Linked DNA regions of Homo sapiens. The protein of the gene in region 2 interacts with the protein of the main gene of each other region in a pairwise test. Each region holds a gene or a part of one and is shown on either strand. Other genes may lie near its edges. The genes, in order: AIFM2 and CNPY4.

Region 1 (3,813 bases), on a different chromosome or scaffold from region 2:
TGGCAAACTGCTTTTTTAAAGGGACTTTTAAAAACTTGTATTTGAAAATACAACATTAGGACAATTTGGTATTAAATTCTGGGATCTCTGTCCATTATAAGCCCTCAATCCCACTGCTACACACAGCCTGGACTGGCTTCCTTTTCCTGGGATTGGATCATTACTTCCTGCTGGACACAAGGCAGGAGCTCCTTGTCAGGGAAGGGCATTTGGGAGTAAATGACAGGGAATTGAGGACACAAAGCAACCACCAGGCCTGGCCACTGAGTCTCCTGCTCACAAATGGAGGCTTAAACACACATCAGTCCACCTCTGCCACCTCCAGCCAGCTAAATACGCAAATACTGAGCTTTAAGAAACGAGGCCATGTTACCAACCCCACTCCCCAGTCAATCCAAGCTCAAGAGACCAAATGTTTTGATCTGGGTTTGGGGGCGGCAGCACGCCTGCCAAGAGAGGAAGGCCTGACCCTGAATTTCCTCTGTCCTCAGGTGAGGGGGAAAGAAACACCACCAACCTTTGTCATCTCTCTGACGCCTGTTCCCATCTCTTACCACTAGGGGGCGGCCCTAATTTCAGAAGATTCTGGTCACCTTGGCCACCTGGGGCCGAGCCATGGTCACAGCTGAGGAGAGCTCAGCAAGGGTGGACCCTCACTGAATTTAAAGTCTGAGCTGTTGGGAAGAAAGGGGGAAGGCAGCAAGGTGTGGACTCCTGGGGGCAAGCACTGCAGGGCATTCAGAGGGTACTGGAGAGCAAGGAGGCACAGGGGAAGCCCGGCTGGGCACCTGCTCACCAAACGCTTTGCGGTAGGCGGAGCTGTTGATCTTGATGCCGGTGCAGAGAATCACCAGGTTGGTGGCCACCTCTGTGCCTTTGTCCGTCTGCACTTTGATGTACTCTCGATACTCATTGAGAGGCAGCTCCTCCAGATTGCTCACCCGCTCACCTAGAAGGGGGTTCATGACCAGGAGGCTGGTGGGGACAGGGACCCCATCAAGCCTGGACCCCAGGCCAAGGCTAACCCTGGGGAGGGCCTGGACCTCTGGGGCCCAACTGGGCAATGGCTGCACCCTGTCTTCCCACCATGCCCCTCCCTCAGTCCACTCTATGCCCCACAAAGCTGATCTGGACATCTGGCCCCGAGGGGTCCCTCTGGAGAAAAGTTCCAAGAAGCCCCTGGAGGGAAGCGAGGCTGTTTCCCAAGAAGTTCTCAGAAAAGCTGTTTAATGGAAGATCTCAGACGCGCCTCTTATGAGTGCCAGCCGTGCCATCCTAACTAGGCAGGACGAGCGCTCCAAGTGCACCACGACAAAGGGGAAAGCCAGAGAAAGAGAAGCCAGCTCGCTACACTCACTGCCTAAAGTGACAGTGACGGCAGCACTCCACAGCCAGTTACCAAAAGGAGGCTGAGGCAGCCATGCGGGCCCTTCACAGGACAGGTGCCTCACCCTCCCGCAAACAGTGAGGGGGCTGGGGCCCCATGCAGTGAAGTGTAGGGGCCACAGCGCTGGAAGAGAACCTCACTTTCCAGCATTTGCTGGGTGGGTCTCGTCCCCTGCTCTACAAGAAGGCCACACTCCTCACCACTCTCAAAACATAAACCAATAAACCTATTCCCTCAACCACAGAGACATCCTATTTGGGGCAAATCCTTCAGATGCACTCAAGAAAAATCATTCAGCAGACAGGCATCCCACCATCTGCACTGCATCCAAAGCAATAACCAGGACATGGAAATCCCGTAAGTACCAGGCCCTCTTCCCTGCCCAGGGACGGGCACAACTTCCAGCTGGACAAGGCTCAGATGGGCTTTGATGTTCACGGCCTCTTCTGAGCGCTTCATGCTCCACCCCAGGACACAGTGGAAAAGAGAGAGCCTGGGGTGGACCATAGCCACCCTCCTGCTGGAAGCAGTCACCAAGCCTCCAAGCCACATCTCACCAGGCCAGGGCAGGGCAGGGAGGGAGGTGAGGGTGCACGTACTCAGCAGCAGCTGCACGCCCTTCCGGAGGAGGATCTCCTTCACTTCCTGCCGGACGGAGGGCAGGAGCTCCTTGTCAGCCAGGGCCACTTGGGAGTGAATGAGAGTGACCTGAGGACAAAACGACCACAGGGCCTGAGAAGGAGCCCCCAAGTCTTCAAACACAATCATTGCACGAACGTCCACCTCCACTCATACCTCCAGGTTACAGATGAGGAAACTGAAGCTCCAGAGAAGTAATCTGTCCAATGCCAGGACCAATTAGTGGTGAGCTGGGCTTAAGCCCACATGTTCTAGACTAGGACTCTTTCAGTACCCTCCTGCCACACCCAGGCCAGAGGACTACCAATATGCCAACATGTCACAACCTACACCTCACCTAGGGCCACCTGGAAAATTATCTTCAAGCATCCTTGGGCACTTATAATTATACAAGCCATGGGCATTCCAACAGTCAATCAGACTGATGTCAACATTAAAGCTTGTTTAAAATTAGTGCTTCCAGGCATGTCTACTTGCTGTCTGGGACAACACAGGGAAGCGTCCCGGGCACCTCATGTTGCAATCATGTTCAAAGCCTGGGCTTTGGTATCAAATTGCCTGGGTTGAAATCCCATCTCTGATACTCACTTGGACACCTCCCAAAGGCTCATTAACATGGGCACAATAGCCCCACTCATAGGAATTTTGTAATGATGAGCAAAAAAATACGTACAAAGCATGTAACTCAGCACATATTAAGTCCTTAATAAAGGGTGGCTGCTACTACCCTTACTGTCTACAAATCCTAAACATGTGGATATTTTACTGAGTTACTTGAACTTTTTTACTACTTCAGACTGGTCTGACCCCTGTGAAATAAGAAGAAAAGTATATATTGGTCTCTGCCCCCAGTTCCTGATGCAGAGCTCTTAAAACCCTTGTAAATTGGGGTACTAAGAATCATTTGTTCTAATATTTGGTCCTCATTGCCGGTTCTTGATACAGAGCTCCTGAGATCTTTGTAATGTCCTGAGTGATGGGAGGGTCTGACATAGAGCTCCTAACTCCTTGGATGTTCCCGGGTGATGGGAGCATCTTTTGTTCTAATGAAGCTACTCCTGATGGGCTCCTGGATGATCGCTGGTCACCAGAGAGACCAAGCCAGCTTAGAAGTCTGGAACTTTCAGCTCCAGTGACGAGAGGGGGCTGGAGATTGAGGTCATAATCAACCTTGCCTACCTGATGAAGCCTCCATAAAAATCCCTAAAGTACAGGGTTCAGAGAGCTTCCAGGTTGGTGAACATGTCCACATGCCAGGACAGTGATGCACCCCAACTCCATGGGGACAGAAGCCCCTGTGCTCAGGACCCTTCTAGACCACGCCCTATGTGCCCCTTCATCTGAATGTTCATTTTTATCCTTTAAAACATCCTTCGTCATAAATCAGCAACAGCAAGTAAACTGTCTCCCTGGCTTCCATCAGCTGCTCTAGCAAATTATTTAACCCAAGGAGAGAGTCATGAGAATCTCTATCTTGTAGCCAAGTGGGACAGAAGCGTGGGTAAGCTGGGGACCTATGGACTTGCAACTGGTGTTTGAAGTCGGGGCAGGATCGTGGGACTGAGCCCTTGACCTGTGGGGTCTGCGCTAACGCCAGGTAGTGTCAGAATTGAATTGAACCGTAGGACACCCAGCTGGTGTCAGAGAATTGGTCAGTGGGGGAAAAACCCACACATCTTATCCCAGAAGTGTGGAGTGAGTAGGGAGAAAAACAGTTTGGTTTTTCCCTATAGAACCCTCATACATCAAAATGAATGAATGTAACTAGATCAATCACTCATCATAAT
Region 2 (3,688 bases):
CTCCTGGGTTCAAGCGATTCTCCTGTCTCAGCCTCCCGAGTAACTGGGATTACAGGCGCCCACCACCATGCGTGGCTTTTTTTTTTGAGACGGAGTCTCGCTCTATCACCCAGGCTGGAGTGCAGTGGCACGATCTTGGCTCACTGCCAGCTCCGCCTCCCGGGTTCCCGCCATTCTTCTGCCTCAGCCTCCCGAGTAGCTGGGACTGCAGGCGCCTGCCACCACACCCGGCTAATTTTTTGTATTTTTAGTAGAGACGGGCTTTCACCGTATTAGCCAGGATGGTCTCGATCTCCTAATCTTGTTATCCACCCGCCTTGGCCTCCCAAAGTGCTGGGATTACAGGCGTGAGTCACCGCGCCCAGCCGCCCGGCTAATTTTTGTATTTTTGGTAGAGACGAGGTTTCTCCATGTTGGCCAGGCTGCTCTCGAACTCCTACACTCAGGTGATCCGCCTGCCTCGGCCTCCCAAAGTGCTAGGATTACAGGTGTGAGTCACTGCGCCCAGCCTCCAGGCTGGTCTTGACCTTTTGGACTCAAGTGATCCTCCCATCTCCACCTCTGCAGTAACTGGGACTACAGGCGCTGCACCACCAGCCCTGCAGTCTTCTTTGTGTGTGTGTGTGTGTGTAGAATTGGGGTTTCACTATGTTGCTCAGGCTGGAGCTTGAGCTTAACAAGACAGCGGCCATTCTGGGTGCTGCCTCATCGACCAGCTAGCTATGTGTGCCCGGCTGTTGTTTGAAACTTTGGGCCCAGCTAGTTTTTAGAAAAAAAGAAAAAAGTTTAATAGCGATATAGAAAATTGAGCACCTATAAAACTATATGGTGGGCTCTGGGTTACATTGAGCTTAAGTAGACCAAGTATCTATCCCACCTAAATTATCAGCAACTCCAGGCCATGACCCAGTGTCCCATTCTCCTTCACGGTTTGCTGGTGTGTAGCCTCCTGGATACAGGCAATGTATATAGATCGCAGAGAATGTCCGTTCTGGCCTCTTCCTTGGAAGGGTCTAAAAACAGACCTTAAGGAGCTAAGTGACTTCCCCAAAGCCCACAGCTCCAGTGCCACTGCTGACTTTTGGGTGGGGGTGGGATCAGTTAAAGAGGAAAGCTTTCAGTACTGTCAGCACATACACCTGCCAATTAAGGGGCTGGATAGAGTTCATCTCTAGGAGCAGGACCTCCACCCCCACCCTCCACCCCAGAAGCCATGTCATGCTGTTTCACCAGGATCTTGCCTGAGGTTAGATGGGAGAGAACAGCTACAAGCTTGGGTGGAGTCACTCATAAACACACCCTGAAAGCTGTGGAGCAGGGAGAGTGCAGGCTTTAGAGGGCTCTCCATGATCCCTTCCCCTCCTGGGGGCTCAAAGGCAAGGGTCAAAGATCTTCTCGGTCAAGTTTGGGGTGGCTTCCTGTCTTGGTCATCTTGTCTCCCCCTTCCTCTTCCTCCTCTTCCTCCTCCTCCTCCTGCTCTTCCTCCCCTTCTGTTTTCTCTTCCCCATCTGTGATCTCCTTTCCAGTCCAAGTTTCCTGTAGACATGCTAGATCGGATGACAGAAAACAATTTAGATATTAGTCCTGGAGGCAGGGGAGGCTATGGCTTGGCAGGAGAGGAGTTCAACCCTTACGCTTACCAGTTTCAGCAGCTGGGAGCACATGACCTTCACAGAGAAAATTTTGTAGGGGCTGCTCCTGATGGTGGAAGTACCAGTCTCCCACAATGTCTTCAAACTCCTCCAACATGGTCTCACACTGGTCAAGTAGAAGGGCCAGAAGAGTATCTGCTCTGGAGGGATTTGGGATCCCGCCTGTCTTCTCTCCCTGCTCAACCTGACTGATTTTGGAGAGGCAGGTAGCCAGGAAGCTAAGTTTGGCCTACTAGATGTGCAATCCTCATTCATTCAACAAACATTTACCAGCACCTATTCTGCCAAGTAGATTATTAAACTCTTGAGTCTCAGCTCCTTGCCTGTAAAATATGTATGGTAATTGCACCTACCACATCAGGCTGTTAAGGGTAAAATGAGGCTACAGATGCAAAGTATCTGGTCCAGAGTCTGGGACACAGTAGGTGCTCAATAAGTGATGGTGGATATCATTAGCAACCATTGTTACTTTTTTTTTTTTTTGAGATGGAGTCTCGCTCTGTCACCCAGGCTGGACTGCAGTGGTGGGATCTCAGCTCACTGCAACCTCCGCCTCCCGGGTTCAAGTGATTCTCCTGCCTCAGCTTCCTGAGTAGCTGGGACTACAGATGCATGCCACCACACCACCACGCCCGGCTAATTCTTGTATTTTTAGTAGAGACAGGGTTTCACTATGATGGCCCGGCTGGTCTTGAACCCCTGATGTCGTGATCCGCCTGTCTCGCCCTCCCAAAGTGCTGGGATTACATACGTGAGCCATCGCACCTGGCCCATTATTACTTTTTAAAAATTTTCCTTAAGGCAGGGCCCAATGGCTCATGCCTGTAATCCCAGCACTTTGGGAGGCCAAGGCGGGTGGATCACCTGAGGTCAGGAGTTCGACCAGCCTGGCCAACATGATGAAACCCCGTCTCTACTAAAATTACAAAAAATTAGCTGGGCGTGGTGGCAGGGGCCTGTAATCCCAGCTACTCGGGAGGCTGAAGCAGGAGAATGGCTTGAACCCGGGAGGCGGAGGTCGCGGTGAGCCGAGATGGTGCCGGTGCACTCCAGCCTGGGCAATAAGAGTGAAACTCCGTCTTGAAAAAAAAAATTCTTTAAAATTATTATTATTTGTAGAGAAGGGGGTCTCTTATGTTGCACAAGCTGGTCTCTAACTCTGGTCTCAAACAGTCCTTCTCCCTCAGACTCACTAAGTGCTAGCATTACAGTTGTGAGCCACTCCACCCGGCTCATTATGATTTCTTTTTTTTTGTTTTTGTTTTTGTTTTTTTTTTTAAGATGGAGTCTTGCTCTGTCGCCCTGGCTGGAGTGCAATGGTGCGATCTTGGCTCATGGCAACCTCCACCTCCTGGATTCAAGCAATTCTCTTGCCTCAGCCTCCCAAGTAGCTGGGATCACAGGCGTGCACCACCACGCCCAGCTAACTTTTGTGTTTTTATTAAAGACGGGGTTTTGCCTTGTTGGCCAGGCTGGTCTCGAACTTATGACCTCAGGTGATCCACCTGCCTCAGCCTCCCAAATTGCTGGGATTACAGGTGTGAGCCACCGCACCCCACCGCTCCTGGACCCACTTTAATCAATGGCACAGTCCTCACTCTGGCCCCTTCCCCATGCTTAGGGGTAGACATCCCCTATAGTCAAACCCTAGAACCTAGCTCCCCTCTCAGGTTCCCTTCTCACCTCCCTGGATGGTGCAGTGTCTTATCCTACCTGCTTCTTGAGGTATGTGACCTCCACGCTGGGCTCATCCCAAAGCTCCAGAGGGATCCCCAGATCCACCTTCACCCCCTTCTGCACTAGGCCTTTCAGTGTTGCCATGGTCTGACTCTGACCCTGAGAGATTAAGAATTTGGCATCAGCCCAGCTCACCACCCCACCCCTCCCTTCCCCTTTCTGCCATTTCAGTTTTGTCAACTACTGGAGATTCAAGGGTGAGTTCCATGATGGTGAGATGATGGGCAGATAACCTCTGGAGGGCCTCAGGGGATACAGATCTTTGTATCTGAGAAGTGGGGTCCTGCCCTGGGGAAGGG

Evidence for each region.
Region 1: the proteins of CNPY4 (region 2) and AIFM2 interact in binary tests that used the Homo sapiens proteins (3 or more experiments, as listed by UniProt).

What each region holds. Positions count from the first base shown.
Region 1 is NC_000010.11:70,115,826-70,119,638, forward strand, and holds part of AIFM2 (ferroptosis suppressor protein 1), read right to left. Parts: intron 2,096-3,813; coding exon 1,987-2,095; intron 950-1,986; coding exon 797-949; intron 1-796. UniProt on the Homo sapiens protein: A NAD(P)H-dependent oxidoreductase that acts as a key inhibitor of ferroptosis.
Region 2 is NC_000007.14:100,122,584-100,126,271, reverse strand, and holds the end of CNPY4 (protein canopy homolog 4 precursor), read right to left. Parts: intron 3,489-3,688; coding exon 3,366-3,488; intron 1,759-3,365; coding exon 1,641-1,758; intron 1,548-1,640; coding exon 1,384-1,547; 3' UTR 764-1,383; downstream 1-763. UniProt on the Homo sapiens protein: Plays a role in the regulation of the cell surface expression of TLR4.